4 linked regions of the Homo sapiens genome follow. The protein of the gene in region 2 interacts with the protein of the main gene of each other region in a pairwise test. Each region holds a gene or a part of one and is shown on either strand. Other genes may lie near its edges.

Evidence for each region. The genes of interacting proteins can lie anywhere in the genome.
Region 1: the proteins of TCHP (region 2) and TEX11 interact in a two-hybrid assay, tested with the Homo sapiens proteins (one large-scale study listed by BioGRID and IntAct).
Region 3: the proteins of TCHP (region 2) and PRDM16 interact in a two-hybrid assay, tested with the Homo sapiens proteins (one large-scale study listed by BioGRID).
Region 4: the proteins of TCHP (region 2) and ZMAT5 interact in binary tests that used the Homo sapiens proteins (3 or more experiments, as listed by UniProt).

What each region holds. Positions count from the first base shown.
Region 1 is NC_000023.11:70,603,652-70,608,211, forward strand, and holds part of TEX11 (testis-expressed protein 11), read right to left. Parts: intron 3,379-4,560; coding exon 3,308-3,378; intron 1,867-3,307; coding exon 1,750-1,866; intron 1-1,749. UniProt on the Homo sapiens protein: Regulator of crossing-over during meiosis. Involved in initiation and/or maintenance of chromosome synapsis and formation of crossovers.
Region 2 is NC_000012.12:109,906,774-109,910,453, reverse strand, and holds part of TCHP (trichoplein keratin filament-binding protein), read right to left. Parts: intron 2,929-3,680; coding exon 2,755-2,928; intron 1,869-2,754; coding exon 1,756-1,868; intron 1,584-1,755; coding exon 1,517-1,583; intron 1-1,516. UniProt on the Homo sapiens protein: Tumor suppressor which has the ability to inhibit cell growth and be pro-apoptotic during cell stress. Inhibits cell growth in bladder and prostate cancer cells by a down-regulation of HSPB1 by inhibiting its phosphorylation.
Region 3 is NC_000001.11:3,436,203-3,440,181, reverse strand, and holds the end of PRDM16 (histone-lysine N-methyltransferase PRDM16), read right to left. Parts: 3' UTR 1,561-3,979; downstream 1-1,560. UniProt on the Homo sapiens protein: Binds DNA and functions as a transcriptional regulator. Displays histone methyltransferase activity and monomethylates 'Lys-9' of histone H3 (H3K9me1) in vitro.
Region 4 is NC_000022.11:29,734,948-29,739,507, forward strand, and holds part of ZMAT5 (zinc finger matrin-type protein 5), read right to left. Parts: intron 3,495-4,560; coding exon 3,383-3,494; intron 1-3,382.

The sequences.
Region 1 (4,560 bases), on a different chromosome or scaffold from region 2:
CATGTCTAAAACACCAAAAGCAGTGGCAACCAAAGCCAAAATTGACAAATGGGATCTAATTAAACTAAAGAGCTTCTGCACAGCAAAAGAAACTACCATCAGAGTGAACAGGCAACCTACAACATGGGAGAAAATTTTCGCAACCTACTCATCTGACAAAGGGCTAATATCCAGAATCTACAAGGAACTCCAACAAATTTACAAGAAAAAAACAAACAACCCCATCAAAAAGTGGGCGAAGGACATGAACAAGTATTCTTTAGAGAGACAGAGTACCACTGTCCGATTCATAGGGACCACACTTAGATGATAAAAGGCAGAAGTGCATCTTCAATTATGTATATAGACATCCTTTCAAAAGCAAAGAAGATTATAGAAAGGTTACTAGTTTAGAGAGTTCTGAGAAAACACAGAGGTGTACATGAGAAAGAACACAGAATAAAAAAGAACGGTAGTTAGAAACAAACAAAATAATGATTGTACTTAAGAGTTTGTGAAATTTCCCCCACATCAATTTGATCTCTATTCACTAAGATAAAAAATTAAACAAACTCAGGATTACCAACCAAAAAGGAAAAACTTTTAGAAATTTAAAAGCACTATATAAAAATAAGATGTTATTATTATTTTTTAGTAAAGCAAAAGTCCCTATTGAGAATTAAATTACATTTACCTTTGCCTGTTAAGTAGAATTTTTGTTTGTTTATTTTGCTCTGGGGAAGGTAGAGTCTTTTCTCATCTTCTTTTAAAATAAAAAGACTCTTAAAAGAGGGCCCCCTTTACTCCTCAGAGGCAAGGACTTTGGCTTCTTTATCTCTGTATCCCCAGTACCTAGAAAAGTGTCTGGTGCTCAAATGTTTTTTGAGTTGAACTCAACAATGGAAGGGAAAAGAAGCGAAATAGTTGGCATAGCTCTGGTGAGAGTTTGTTTCAGATCCAAAGAACAATATGAAATAAGAGATTAACAGGAGGAAGAGAATAAACAGCAAAGGGTTTATATTACTTGGAGAGGAGGGAAGGTGACAAGTATGGGAGATTAGGAAGTTTTCTTTGTCCAGGTACGAGAAACCAAGCAGAGAGATCTAGATCTTAAAAATCATACAAAAATGCTATTGGTCTGATTTGGAGACAATTTTCTTAGATTGAAAGAAGAAAGGTAAACAGCTAAAAGCAAACCAATAATCTGGTGTATGGGAGACGGTGATATTGATAGCTCCTAAAAGGGGTAACATTTAAGAATCTGATAGGGGAATTCAGGCAAAGGTAAGGAATTCTGTCTTGTAGAAATTAAGTTAATGAGATATTTAAGGATGTGGGAAAAAGAAAGCAAATGCAATTGAGAGAAGAAAAACCAGATAAGTAATAATTTCAGATGGCTATCAAAGCTATGGAAACAGATGAGTTCTTCCTTAGAAGATGTGGTAAGAAACAAAAGTGGAGTCCAAACGCGTATATAATCACAGGCAGACAATGAAGATAAAAGATATTTAAAAACATTTTTGGAAAGAGTGGTCCATAGGAAGGGGAATTTTAAAAGAAGAGATATCTAATCTTCTTAAAAGAAGAGGCCACACCAAAAGTAACCTTTGCTTAGGAAGGAATTAGCCATTACAAACTTTTGAAATCAAGACGATGCTGGAGTGGAGAAAAGGATTCTCTAAAGAGAATCAAAAAGAACTGCATCAGGGAAGGCAAACATATCAAATAGCACACTGAACTCTTGTCTTTTCTTTGAAGGTTGCACATTACCTGTTCAAAAGCTGTTGAAGCTTTTCTCCCTTGCTCTAGATCAACTGCAACTGCCATAAGTAAACATGTTTTCCGTGCAATCAGAATTACTTGATCAGAAGGACAAAACTGGGACATCTGATAAGAAGTAACCAGAACATCAATGAATAGTGAGAATTCTGCCAGGTGAACACAAACAATCAGAATGAAAATCAGCAACTTCCTGTTTGAATGAGAAAATTCAGCTGGAAAAGCACATGTCACCATAGAAATGATATAAACTATAATACTGATTTATGCTTTTAATTTTATATTACTTTCCATTGTTTTTAGTACCTTCCTAGAGATAAAAAGCTTCATTTCTTCACAGTATTCCTATCTTTTCCAGTGACAAGTAGTATCATTCGCCCTTGTATTTCTATCTAGTGATTTACTTCTTGGTTTATGTTGTAATTTGTAAGTGATTTTTCCCCTGGCAAATAAGATTTCCACCTTTGTATTGAATAGAGCCAAAATTAGTTCATATATTGTCATGGTTGAAAGAGGCATTGTCAAATCTTGACAGGCATTAGTCATGACCTCATCATTAACATTGTATAGTTTTAGGAAAAACTCCCAGCTACTACAATAAAACTCTAGGCCATTTGGATTCTTACACGCCAATCCTACAAGTCCCATCACAAATGCCAAAACTAAAACCAATTTATTTCACTTAATTAAAATGGCAGTTATGCCTAAACTTGCAAAGACTATTTCTTAATCTCCCCAAACATTCAGTGATCATAATCATCATTGTTATTAAATTAATAGCATTTTAAGACAACCAATCTCTTTAGGTCTCTGATTACTCTTATGTGAGATGAAGGAGTTGTGCTAGATAGTCTTTATAGTTCTTTCTAGCTCTAAAACTCTTAACATTTAATTGATCTCAACATATCATACTGTGTATTCCTGAATGTGTATGAAGGATATTCTTTAGTCCTTCTCCTTTTATCTTCCTGTCAATACTTGGTCCTCTTTCTGGCATTTAACCTCTACCTTGGAGGCCAACGACTATTTAAAAATGCTTATAATTAAATAACAAACTCACAAATCGCTACACTCAGGACCTGCTATAGGAAAGTTATAAAGGAGGCCTAAGCTTCTTATCTCTTTTTTCAGCCCCTGCTATCCCCAGATACTTATTCTATGTTCTTGTAGACTTATTCCCATAACTCTTCATAATGTGTTGGTAATTAACAACTACTTAGAGTATTCCCCTCCTAAAGATATTTACATTTTAATATAGGACTTTGGGAGGCTGAGATCCCTTCAAAGGCAAAGAAATAAGTCTTAAATGGTAGAACTTTAGGCTCCCTGATGAATGTTTCTGATATTTTGGTATAGAAAGATATGCCCCACATTCTTATGTTATACCCTAAAAGGAACAAATTCTTCTTAGGTCATTCCTGCTTACATATATATTAAAAGTTCCTAGATCAAGAGACAATCCTAGTCTATATTTAGCCCTTTACTATAGCCATAGTGGTTATAGCCTTGTTGTGGTCCATACATGAGATACTTATTAAAAGAAACTTACCTTATAAGAAAGTATAAAAAACTCTCTCATCATCACTGGATCTTTGTCACATTGCACAGCCAAGTTCCAAGCTGGAAATTAACATGAAATAACATAATAATATGAAATTATGAAAATCTACCATTTAGTCTGTACCATTACAATTTCTGATACTTACACCTTTGATATTAACATACTAGTAAGGGGTTTCTCAAGGTTTAAACAATTAACTTTAGGTTTTAAAGAAAAATTTTCCAGGTAAATTTAGAGACCCTCGTCAATTCCAATCTTCAACACTAGACCAATGACCAAGGGAGGTACTGCTGAATTTTTTAAAATTGGGGACATGCAATAAGAATTCTTAGCTGAGGCCAGGCTTGGTGGCTCATTCCTATAATCCCAGAACTTTGGGAGACCAAGGCAGGAGGATTGCTGGAGGCCAGGAGTTCAGGACCAGCCTGGGCAACAGAGAGAGACTCCGTCTATACAAAAAAATTAAAAAACAAACCAAAACAAAACAAAACTAGCCAGGTGTGGTGGCACACAACTATAGTCCCAGAAGACTGACACCAGGAATTTGAGGTTACAGTGAGCTATGATGCCACCACTGCACTCCAGTCTGGCAGCAAAACTCCGTCTCAAAAAAAAAAAAAATTCTTAATTGACACTAATCTATCTAAAAATGAAGATCAACATGGATAGAGCTCACTAACTCGCAGTGGTGAAAGTAAGTTAAAATTCACCTAAGAACAAGGTACACTGTAATCAAGAGTTGAGAAAAATTACTGGAGAGATTCATATCTTCCAAAGAGCAGTAGAAGCCCTCATCAGGCATCAGTCAGCATCATCTTCCCCTTGGAAAATCCAAATTAAAATGCAGTAAAGTAAAAACATTCCTTTTCAAACCTTCAAAAGATTAAAGTCACCAAACTTGTCTATATTTTAAATGTTTGTTATTTTTCATTATTTGCATCAGTTTCTTAGAAGTCAGATTGCAGTATTCATTCCCTTTCTCCCAGGATTAAAGCCCTATTAAACCTCATAACACAGGGAGAGGTTCATGTAGAATCAGTCCACTTTGTGGCACTGCTGCTTAATTGCTCATGCTTACTTATCACTGTAGTAACTGCCTCCGCAAGTTTTAAAATCATTTTTATTGAAATAGAGCCATTATAAAGTATATTACACAACTCATAATTGTACAGCTTGATGAATTTTCACAAAGTGGACATATCCATGCGTCTGGCACCCACATTAAGAAAGATCTTGAACAT
Region 2 (3,680 bases):
TCCCAGCTACTCGAGAGGCTGAGGTGGGAGGATGGCTTGAGCCTGGCAGGTTGAGGCTGCAGTGAGCCGTGATTGCGCCATTGCAATCCAGCCTGGACAACAGAGCAAGACCCCATAAAAAACAGCTGCACACCAGGACCAACCATGCCACTGTGCCCCATGTCCTGCCCTGACCGCAGTGGGCAGGGATGGGAAGGGCAGCTTAGGTCTGTCTCCCTCACTTCAAGGGAGCTCATCAAAGTACTTAGGAATACAAAGGAGCTATCTGAAAAGAACAGGTTCAATCTAAGCATAATGACCTTTTTTTGTTTTTTTGAGACAGAGTCTCACTCTGTTGCCCAGGCTTGAGTGCAGTGGTGCAATCTCGGCTCACTGCAACCTCCACCTCCTGGGTTCAAGCAATTCTCCTGTCTCAGCCCCCCGAGTATCTGGGATTACAGGTGTGCACCACCATGCCTGGCTAGTTTTTGTTGTTGTTGTTCTTGTTTTGAGAGAAGTCTCGCTCTTGTCCCCCAGGCTTGAGTGCAACGGCTTGATCTCAGCTTATTGCAACCTCCACCTACCAGGTTCAAATGATTCTTCTGTCTCTGCCTCCCAAGTAGCTGGGATTAAGGCGCCTGCCACCACACCCGGCTAATTTTTGTATTTTTTAGTAGAGACAGGGTTATACCACATTGGCCAGGCTGGTCTCAAACTCCTGACCACAGGTGATCCGCCCGCCTCAGCCTCCCAAAGTGCTGGGATTACAGGTGTGAGCCGCCACGCCCGGCCATGTCCGGCTAGTTTTTGTATTTTTAGTAGAGATGGGGTTTCACCATGTCATTCAGGCTGGCCTCAAACTCCTGACCTCAGGTGATCCGCCTGCCTTGGCCTCTCAAAGTGCTGGGATTATAGGCGGGAGCCACCGCACCTGGCCGATCTTTTTAAAAATTAAGAGATTTAGTGTTAATTGAAGATGCTGAGGAATGCAACCTCAATTAGATTTAAATACAAAAACAAAAACCTCCACCTCTCTGTATGTAAATACATCTAGAAAGATGTGAACTAAACAGGCACCTCTGGGGATAGACAGAGATTGCAGGTGCTGGTCAAGGGGGTGATCTCACTTTGTGTTGTGCTGCTTTTTAAGTAACACAGTTACTGAAAAATAATTTGATGTTTTGATACCTGTATCTATCCATCTATGTATACACACAGACACTGGGAAAGGATCCTTACGGTCAAGCTAATTAACATATCCATCACCTCACAGTTGGTTTTCATGGTGACAACACTTAAGATTGGCTCTCTTAGCAAATTTCAAGAATACAATATGGTATCATCAGCTGTGATCAACATGATGGACACTACTCCCAGATCTCCCAACCGAGGGATGTATCCTTTGACCAACATCTCCCCTTTCCCCCAACCCCTCACTGTCTTCATTCTTACGAGAATGCACTCATATACTAAGCAATGGAAGGCCTTTTTTACAAAAGAGGCTAAGAAAGATGTCAGGCTGTCTCTTCAGACTTACCAGCTCCTCTTGGATCTGCTGTGTGCGTCTGCTGAGTTGAGCGTTATACTGATGTCTCAAGAAACGCCTGAAGGAGAATCAAATGTGGGCTGCCTTCAGTATCTCAGAAAGAATTAAATAGAAGTTAGATAACTGCTGACCAGGCTGTCTCCTTTATGGTTTCAGCAACACGAATGCAAGTCTGAAAAAGCAAGAGGCCCACCCGCCTGGGAAGAGTGGGGGGCCCTTCTGACACACACCCCAGCTCTGCCTTCTGCCGGAAGGCTTCCATCTGCTTTCGCTCTTCCTCCAGCCTCTCTAGCTCCCACCGCTGCTTCAACAGATTCTCCTGCTCCTTCTTTAGTTTGGTCGCCTGTGGTGATGATGAGAGTAAGCTCGACTGAGATCTGAGATCGTGGGAATCAGATCTTCCTTCATTCTCCATCTCCATTTTTCGCAGACACTACACCAACAGAGGCCTGGCCATGCAGGTGGTCACGATCCCCTCCCACCACTCACTTACTCATCCAATCCCCTCTGAGCCATTTCCTGCAAGGGCCTTTCTGAGCCCTGAACTCTAAACTCCCACAGGATCCTGTACTGGTCCACTCTTACTGTAACTTAACAACTGTCCTCCACCTGACACAGCCCCCACCAGGAGGTCAGGACTGTGGGCCTTGGTCAGGCTCTATCTCTAGTTCCCAACCCAGTGCTCAGCACCTAGAATAAGCAGTAGGCACTAAGAATGTAGTTGCTAAATCACGGCCTGGGCAAGGGGAAGTGAGGTCACAGGAGCATGGGCCTCCCTCTTCTAAATAGAAAGATCTCTTTCAAGGAAACTGTGCCATGTTCTCCAAAAACAGCCCCTGGACCAAAAACCCTCAGTTATGCCTCGAGACCCGAAACCTGCTCCCCACGGAGAGCTGGGTGCTAGACCACCCGATTAAATTGTGTCTACTCAGTGCACTGGAAAATCCAGATTCTAAGAAGGTTCTCCAACAGCAGGCCGCTAACCACCTCTAAGAGAACAGCTACTGGCTCCATGTCGTTAATGTTCTGGAATTCAGGCACGCAAACGAGGAGGATGGGAAAGCACAAGGCAGATGGGGATGCATGTGAGAGGGAGAACCCGGCTGCTGCCGCCCTTTGCAGAATCTCAGCCCTGCTATGGCCTCTTCTTAGGGCAGCCTCTCAAGTGCCCATCTCATGCTAACGAGCAGCTGTGGAGGAGGTCACGGCTGAGAGGGGCTTGTGCCCACCTCCACCTCCTTCAGCTTCAGCTCCTCCATCTGTTGCAGCAGTGCCTCGGCCTGGAGCTTGTCCTCCAGCTGCCTCCTCTCCTCTTCAGCTTTCATCCTTTCTAGCGCCTCCCTTCGGGCCCTTTCATATTCATTTTCATACCGTTTGTTCTCTTGCTCTGCGGTGGCTTCTTGCTACAAGGGACCAAATGAACACAGGTCAATATCTGTACCGTAAGCCAACAAAAACCTAGCTTCCTGCCGCCGTTCTGCAGGCCACAGGGCCCAGGCAGTTCCTGCCTGAATCCCAAATGACAACGCCCTCAGACGCCAAGTCAGGGAGGGACTCAATAATGTTGGGTTTCCTCCCCACTCAACAAAACACTTTCTAAAATGAACCAGGCAGCAAAGCGACCAGTGCACAGAGGTGTGGAAGCTTAACCCCAAAGGGGTTACAGTAAGCCAGGGCTGCGAGTTTACGATGCAGATTTCATCAAAAGAGAGACAAAAATGCCCTTAAAGACACACGTCCTAGCTGGACCCTGTGGCCCACGCCTGTAATCCCAGCACTTTGGGAGGCCGAGGTGGGAGAATCGTTTAAGGCCAGGAGGCCAGACCAGCCTGAGCAACAGAGCAAGACCCCATCTCTACAAAAATTAAAAAATTAGCTGGGCGCAGTGGTGCGTACCTGTGGTCCTAGCTACTCGGGAGGCTGAGTTAGGAGGACTGCTTGAGCCCAGCCAGTCGAGGCTGCAGTGAGCTGTGAGTCGCGCCACTGCACACCAGCCTGGGTGACAGAGCAAGACCCTGCCTCCAAAAGAAAAAAAGAAGACGCGTGCTGTATGTGCCACCTCCCAGCCCTGGTCACCTGGCCTTATTCTGCCCTGGGAATTATCACATAGGATTCTGGTATATGTAAGAGCAAACATTCAGTTTTCACATGTGTC
Region 3 (3,979 bases), on a different chromosome or scaffold from region 2:
GCCCACCTCCCTGGAACCCCAGCCAGGCCTGTGTTCCAGGCACTCGGGGGTAAGGGAGGGGAGAGGTGGAGGGGCACAGCTCCAGAGGCCCGGCCCACTGGGAGGGGTGGACAGGAGGGAGCCCAGGAGACATTCAGAGGCCCTGGGTAGGGGTGGGGGTGGGAGGCCAGGTCACCTGGGTGACATCAGTTAAACTCTGTGTCAGCAGGGAGCCAGTGGGGGCCTACGTGGGTGAGACGGTTTGGGGCAGTCCTGGTTGGGGAGGCTGGGCTCGGTCTGGCTGGACATTCCCCTTTGAGGTTTACGCCCCCTAGGCTTCTGGGTCAGAGCAGAATCAGGGTAGGGGAATGGAGCCTCTCCCAGAGGCAGGAGGGCCCCAGGAAGGAATCCCAGGGGCAGTCTGGGGGTAGACAAGAGAAGCCCCTGAGGGGACTGGGTCTGCTCCAGCCCCGGGGCCTCTAGCTCACCCCCTATCCCACCCCTGTGGCTGTCCCTTGTCAGGGCAGCATCAGGCCATGTGAGGTGCTGGTGGACACAGACTTCAGGGAGGCTGACATGGGGAGGGCCACCCTTAGGAAGGGGTGGGTTGAGGACTGGCCTAGAACAGAGGCCCCCAGACCCCAGGCCATGGGCCAGGACCAGTTCTTGGCCTGTTAGGAACCGGGCCACACAGCATGGGGGGCGCAGCGGAACCCAGCTTCCTCTGTGTTTACAGCCACGCCCCATCGTCTGCATCACCGTCTGCACTCCACCTCCCATCAGATCAGTGGCGGCGTGAGATTCTCATGGGGGCGGGAACCCTATTGTGAACTGCGAGTGCGAGGGATCGAGGCTGCACGCTCCTTGTGAGCATCTAATGCCTGATGATCTGTCACTGTCTCCCATCACCCTTAGATGGGAAGGCCTAGTTGCAGGAAAACAAGCTCAGGACTCCCACGGATTGTACACTATGGTGAGTTGTAGAATTATTTCATTATATACTCTAATGTAATAATAATGGAAATAAAGTGGACGATATATGTAATGCATTTGAATCAGCCCCAAACCATCCATCCCCTGGTCTTTGGAAAAACTGTCTGCCACGAAACCAGTCCCTGGTGCTAAAAAGCGTGGGGACTGCTGGCATGGAAGACGGGTTCCCCCAGCACCTCCAACAGGGAATGCTGCATCCCCAGGAAGCCTTGGGGCAAGGCCTGTGGGGTGGGCCCTGGGTCCTGTGTACCTGGAGGCAGGCACAGTTGGGGGACATGCCTGGAGGCTGCTGCATCTGGAGGCTGTCATGCTTGGCAGAGGGACACACCTGGAGGTCACTGTGCTCGCTCTGGGGCCATCCAGGGAGTTGATGCCTTCCTGAGCTTATTCTTTTCTGGAAAATGGGAATAGCCAGGAGTCTGCCCCGGAGGGTGGAGGGAACAAAGCTCCAAGGGCATCAGGGCCTGGCCCCGGGACTCCTCAGTCAAAGCCAGGGAGCCTGGACCTCGGCCGAGCCCTGGCTTGCTCCTCCTCTCCCTTCCACAGGCCTGGGGCCTCTCCCTCAATGAAGCTCGCGGGCACCGAGGCTTAGAAAAGCACACAGATTTATTGCATATCAATCTCATGTATAAATTCATTGGAGCATTGGAAAGATTACATTTGGTATACAGTCCTATTCTACAGCATTAACCTCCAAATCGGCTTCTCCTAGGCTTTCTCTTAAGGAAATGTCTCTACACAAGTACATTTGTGTTCATCACAAGCATCAGAATGCAATTTGCAAAATTGTTCTTTTCATGATTTCCTACACTTCACGTCTTATTTCATTCTTCTCCCACAGCGATTTCCGTATTAATTGGGAACTGCGCCTCTTTCGCGTCAGCAGTTCAGGACTCCTAGTCTCAGACGTAGATCCTAATCACATATTCAATAAGTGCATCTACAGAATTTTCCTTTTAATAAAAATTTCACCAACAGACACGATAATGACCGCTAAGCAGGAGTCATGCACAGTTTACTTATAAACAGAACAGAAGCAATTTACAATCAAGGGGGACATGGGGCGAGCGCCAGCCTCCTTCTCAATGGTCTTTTTAAACATTATATGAAAACCAGACATTTACATTTGATTTCTTTTTCAATACTATACAGTTCTAAAAGAAAAAACAAAACAAAACAAAACTAAACCAAATCTGTAATGTAACAATGGCAGAAGGTGGCGGGCGGCACAGGTCTGTGATTCTGCGAGGATTCTTTATATCGACCTTAAGGGACAAAGTCCATATACACACACGCTTTAAATTACGACTCTGACACCAGGGCTCAGCATCCCTCGTGCCGAAAGCGCAGTGGCAATGCACGTGACGCTGAAGGCAATTGTTAGAATGACTTTTGTTCACAAGTGAATCACACGTTTGGAAACTCAAGCTGCCTTTTATTTATTTATTTATTTATTTTTTTCCAAAAGTGGTAATACGGATCAGTGACAGAAAAGAACAAAACAAACACAAAAATGGAATGGAAGGAGCAGAGGAACTCTTCTAGGAAGAATGCAAGGATGGTTTTGTCACAGTATCACTCATTGCTACAGAGACACAGTTTCATGGCTTTTGATACCCGGCTGACCTCCACTGACCAGGAGCAGCTATGTCCTGGCGTCCCTGGCTGGGAGGAGAGCCTTGCCCTCCCCCACAAGGCTGCAGTGCAGGGGCGAGCTCTGCTCTCCCTCCCCCTAGGACAGCACAGTGAATATAGCTCAGTAGGTTTCAGTCACTTGGGCAGGGGGACGGGACAGAGGGGGCAGGGGACCACAATCCAGTGCTTTGAGGCTTCGAGTCTAAAATACGTGATATGTATTCAGGCAAGTGTTTTGCAGACGCTCATGGGGAAGCGGGGAAGGCAGAGGACGCCAGGGCCCTTGGAATTTCCAGGGCTGGACTCTGGGGACGTGGAGGTCTTGGCCAGTCGGGGTCTGGATGGGACAGCTGCACGCGTGGCCTTGTAAAGGAAGGCCTCTCCAGCTGGGCAGTCTCTCAGGCCACACCACGCCCACCCCAGCCACTGCTCCACACCCCAGGGCCCCAGGCAGGGTGCAGGGGCTCGATCCTCTGGGTTGAAGTCAGTGATATCTTGGGTCCCACTCATGAAGGGTCTGCCAGGCCCACAGAGGAGGAACCCCACGTGCCCAACCTGGGGATGAGAGCAGGAACGGGTGGGGACGTCGGCTCGCTGGGGGCTGGGGTCTGAGGAGCAGCGGAGGGCAGGTGCGAGGAGGCCTCCTTCGGAATTTCCATTTGGGGGATGGGGGTTGACAATCCAAGGAGTTAGCATTGGGGCAGCATTTGGGCTGAACGGAAGGGCCCTGGACCCCTGGCTTGCAGCCCTGACCCTGGCCACCTGGCCATGGACACAGCCAGCTGCCCCGTCGCATCCCTGTCCATGCTGCACAGTTACATGGCCCCGTTACGGTGTGGTGACAGCTGGAGGCCAGAATCTCTGAATTCTCACACCCGGGCCAGGCTCCCTGGCCCTTGTCATCTCTGGGCACCAACACTGCTGGGCAGAGCAAAACTGGGAGGGCGAGGCTCGCTGGGGCCTGGGGCCACACTAAGTGTCGGGGCCGTGTTTTGGGGCGCACCAGCCCAGGAAATAAGTGCTGCCTTTGTCAGGGGCTCTAAGAACAGGGCCTCCTGAAAACGCCAAGTGCTGGGGCCTGGGGGTCTGAATGCTCAGGAGAAACTGGGCTTGCCATCATTTTCAGGGGGACGAAAATATATGACTTAAAACGTGCAACCAGGACTCTTGGGAAAGGTGGAAGGAAAGAGCGCCAAGAGAAGACAGGACGGTTAGGAAGACAGCCGAAAACGGCGGGATGGGACTGGGGGATCCGGAGACCAACGGTAAGGGCGGCTCTCATCGGTTCTGCTCCTGCTGAAAAGACACGCTGAGGGCTCCATCCGTCCGAATGTCCCACTTCAGAGAGACGGGGTCATATTGCAAAAAAAAA
Region 4 (4,560 bases), on a different chromosome or scaffold from region 2:
AGGGAAGGTGGGAGACCAGGGAGGGGCCGCTGGGGTGCCCAGGAGAGCCAGGGTGGAGGAAGAACATTGTTGCTGCAGCACTGCCTCCAGGCTGGAGAGGGAGCCAGGAAGAAAGTGAGGTAGCCTTGCGGGGGCTGGGGCTGGAATCCACCCCCTCCCATTAAGCAGGGTAGGGGGTGTGGATGCAGGGGAGGGGCTCAAAGCCCAGGACGGAGGGAAAGGCTGCTAGGCTTCAGGAGACCAGCCTGCCCGGAGACAGTTATGGACGCCCAAGGCAGCAATGGCAAAAGCAGGAATAAACGGTCACCTCCCTTCCCACAGCCCCTTTTTCTCAAGGCTGGACAGGCCTGCTCTGCCTAGAGAACAATTCATTTTGGCCCCAAGCCCTCAGGAGGCAGGAGGAAGGCAGGTGGCAGATCCCCTGGAAGGGGCCAGGCTGGGTGGCCAGAGGGACAATGGCCCAGAGCACAGGGCTCAGACCCCCTACAGCCAAGGTGGGCTCCAGTTGCAGAACAATCATTCCCAAAACAGTCACTGCCATCAGGGCAGCCTGCTGCTGCCACTGCCACTACCCACAGCCACACAGAGCCTTGGGCCAGCCCTGAACTTGGTGTCAGAGGCAGCCTGGGGTCTAGACACAGAGCAGGGACCTAGCTCTCTCTCAAGTGAGGGCTAAGGGCAGCAGGGCACGTGTGATCAGGATGGCCCCACCTCCTGGAGAGGTTAAGATTCCTCAGATGCAAAATGGGGGTGCCAATCTCCCTGAATGCCCCCAAACACTGGGAACACTGTAAGCACCAAACTCAATTCTCATATGGTCACCACTTCAACCTGTGACTAGGAGCCAGTCATTCAGCCTCAGTTTCCCCATCTGGTACCCTAGTCCCCCAAGTCTCAAATTCATAGCGCCTTGTTTCAGCACAGGGATGCATCTGTCTGGAACCCAGGCAAGGACTCTGGGGCACCCCATCTCTACCCCACCCATTGGTGCTCACTCCAGTTCAGCCACAGGGACTCCATGAAACCTTGTCACAGCCCCAAGAGACAGCCGGGCCTCTGTGACTCGCTCCCAGCGGAGGACACCATGGACCCAGAGCAGGGAGGCGAGTGGCTGGTGCAACTCGGTTAGCAGGTGGCAGAGTGAGGATGGGACTCATAGGAGATCCTGTCCAAGTAGCGGTGCAGGGGCCAGAGCTTTCTGGGCAGCCTCCAACCAGCTCAAGCCTTTTGCACACGGGCTGAAGGAGTCTGGGGTGTAGGACGTGGATCCCTGGACAGCAACCAGTCCCAAAGGAGGTGCTCACATGCACAAAGACAGGATAGAACCCCTTTAGACGGGACCCTTCAGACAGGACCAGGAGGAGAGAATGTCACACTCCAACGTTTGAGTCATGTCTGTACCACATATACTTTTAAGGTGGGGAGACAAAAACTGAACACGGATTTAAAATAAAGGTAAAAGACAAAGTTAGTTTTAAAACACCTTTACTGGCTGGGTGCGGTGGCTCATGCCTGTAATCCCAGCACTCTGGGAGGCTGAGGCAGGTGAATCACCTGAGGTCAGGAGTTCGAGACCAGCCTGGCCAGCACAGCGAAACTCTGTCTCTACTAAAAATACAAAAATTAGCCGGGCATGGTGGTGCATGCCTGTAATCCCAGCTACTTGGGAGGCTGCAGCATGAGAAATGTTTGAACCCAGGAGGCGGAGGTTGCAGTGAGCCGAGATCGTGCCACTGCACTTCAGCCTGGGTGACAGAGCGAGACTCCATCTCAAAAAAAAAAAAAAAAAAAAAAAGGCTGGGCGCGGTGGCTGACACCTGTAATCCCAGCACTTTGGGAGGCTGAGGCGGGTGGATCAGGAGGGCAGGAGATTGAGACCATCCTGGGTAACATGGTGAAACCCCGTCTCCACTAAAAACACACAAAAAAATTAGCCGGGCGTGGTGGCGGGTGCCTGTAGTCCCAGCTACTCAGGAGGCTGAGGCAGGAGAATGGCGTGAACCCCAAGAGGTGGAGTTTGCAATGAGACAATTGCACCACTGTACTCCAGCCTGGGCGGTAGAGCAAGAATCCGTCTCAAAAAAAAAAAAAAAAGCCGAGTGTGGTGGCTCATGCCTGTAATCCCAACACGTTGCACTTTGGGAGGCCGAGGCAGGCGGATCACCTGAAGTCGGGAGTTCAAGACCAGGCTGGCCAACATGGTAAAACCCCATCTCTACAAAAATACAAAAATCAGCCAGGTATGATGGTGGGTGCCTGTAATCCCAGCTACTTGGGAAGCTGAGGCAGAAGAATCGCTTGAACCCAGAGGCAGAGGTTGCAGTGAGCTGAGATCACACCACTGCACTCCAGCCTGGGCAATACAGCAAGACTCCATCACAAAAAAAGAAAGAAAGAAAGAAAAAAAACACCCTCATAGTCTCTTTCACTGGAGCACAGAGAAGGCAAGAAGTTTGGCCTTCACCTCCTGGCAGAGCTCCAAGGGAAGGCCTCTTCCCCCAGACTATCTGGCCAGGTCCCCTTGGCCCAGGCCAGGCCACCATTTTGTGAAGCCACACCACAGAGGTAGTCAGGTCTGAAGCCCGTTGCAAGATGGGGAAAGCAAGGTAGTCGGGATGGGAAAACGTGTTCAAAGTCGCATGCGGCTCCTGGGCGCAGCTTTATCCCCTTTTCCTCCCCTCCCTCCTTCAACTGCTGGAGGAAGAGCCCAGGAGCTCAGGCTTCGGTTTTGGCCGCCAGCCTTTGTCTGCCCCTGCCTGCCCTGTGCCCCGTTCTGATGTGAATATCACCCGAGGCCCTTCCCTCAAAGAGGAGGACCAGGGACATCACGAAGCACACACCCCAAGGACCCCGATCCAGCAGCTCCCCTTCTACTTGTGAGCGTCCCGAGGGCTGGGGCCATCTCCAGACCCCCTTCCTTAGAAAGGCAGTGGGACCAGGACCTCGTCATCACGCCTGTGCAATCCCGGCTCTACATTTTCCCGTCTGTGTGCCCTCGGGCAAGTCGCACCCTCCCTGTTTTCCCTTCTGCAAGGCCCTAGAGGCAACAGTGGGCAGCAGTGCATGGTGACCACAGCCCAGGCCCCTCCCTCTGGCAACGGACTTGTGACTTGCAGCCAAATCAGCTCTGCCGCCTGCCTCCCCTCCAGCCAGCACAGACTCCAACAGGGGCCCAGCTTTGGGAGAGGCTCTTTCAAACACCCCTCAGCCTCTGGCCAGGGCCTGGGGCCCCAAGGGCTCCTCGGGGAGCTATGTGTAGGCAACTTTATTCGGCCCCTGGGCCTGGGCAGTTCATGGAGATTCCTGAGCCTCAGGAAGGGGAAGGCGGGCTGGGGTTTTGCCCCCAGGGGGCACAGCGGGAGGGAACCCTGGGGACCTGTACCTGCTACTTGGGGCTGAGCTCAGCCGCTTGGCTCTCTTCTCCAGCCAGTCCTCCAGATGGCCCTCGGGGAGCTCAGGAGCATCTAGTAGCCACTCCCTGGCTCGCCTCTCCTCTGTGGGGACAGGGAGACAAAGGCAAGTGAGGGGTACACTCCTGCCTGCCAGAACCCTACCCTCTCACAAAGCAGAAGCAACTGGTAGGCCCTGAGCAAGCCTGGGAAGTTGCAGCAACCTTCCAGGAGGATGCACCTGGACTGCTTCTCCAGGCCATCTGTGCACGAGGGCCCAGCACTCGGCCTCGCTCTGTTTTCCCATCAAATAGAGACAACCCCGGCTGCCTCCAAGCTCTTGGGGAGCTGGAAACAGGACAGTGCTTGTAGAGAACCTGGCCCTGGCCAGGCGTGGTGGCTCACGTCTGTAATCCCAGCACTTTGGGATGCCAAGGCGGGCGGATCACCTGAGTCCAGGAGTTTGAAACCAGCCTGGCCAACATGGAGAAACCCTGCCTCTACTAAAAATAAAAATAAAAAAAATTAGCCATGTGTGGTGGTGGGTGCCTGTAATCCCAGCTACTTGGGAGACTGAGGCAGGAGAATCGCTTGAACCTAGGAGGTGGAGGCTGCAGTGAGCTAAGATCGCACCACTGCACTCCAACCTGGGCGGCAAGAGTGAAACTCCATCTCAAAAAAAAAAAAAGAGAGAGAGAGCCTGGCCCTAAGGAGGGGTCTGAATCTGAGGTGCAGGGAGGCAGTGAGGGCAGTCGAATGGGGTCACATCTCAGCTCTGTCACCTGCCGGGTCTTTGACCCTGGGCAGGGTAATGAGCCTCAGCTTCCCTGGTTTTTATTCTCATAAGCTGTCCAACAAAACCTGTTGCTCAACGAATTAAAACCAATCAACGAATGGAATTTATACAAGCTGGGTGTGAGCGTTTGATGGGGTCAGAGTCGCCAAGTCATCTGGGATGGAGTCTTGGGCCAGAGGAAAGTAATCATACACTTGACTAGCACTCACTCAGAGCCAGGCCCCAGTCTCTGGAGCTCACTCGGGGCCAGGCCTCGGTCTCTGGAGCTCACTCGGGGCCGGGCCCTGGTCTCTGGAGCTCACTTGGGGCCGGGCCCTGGGCTGTACAGGTGTCATCTTGCTTCATCCTTAGAGACATCACATTCGACAGGACACA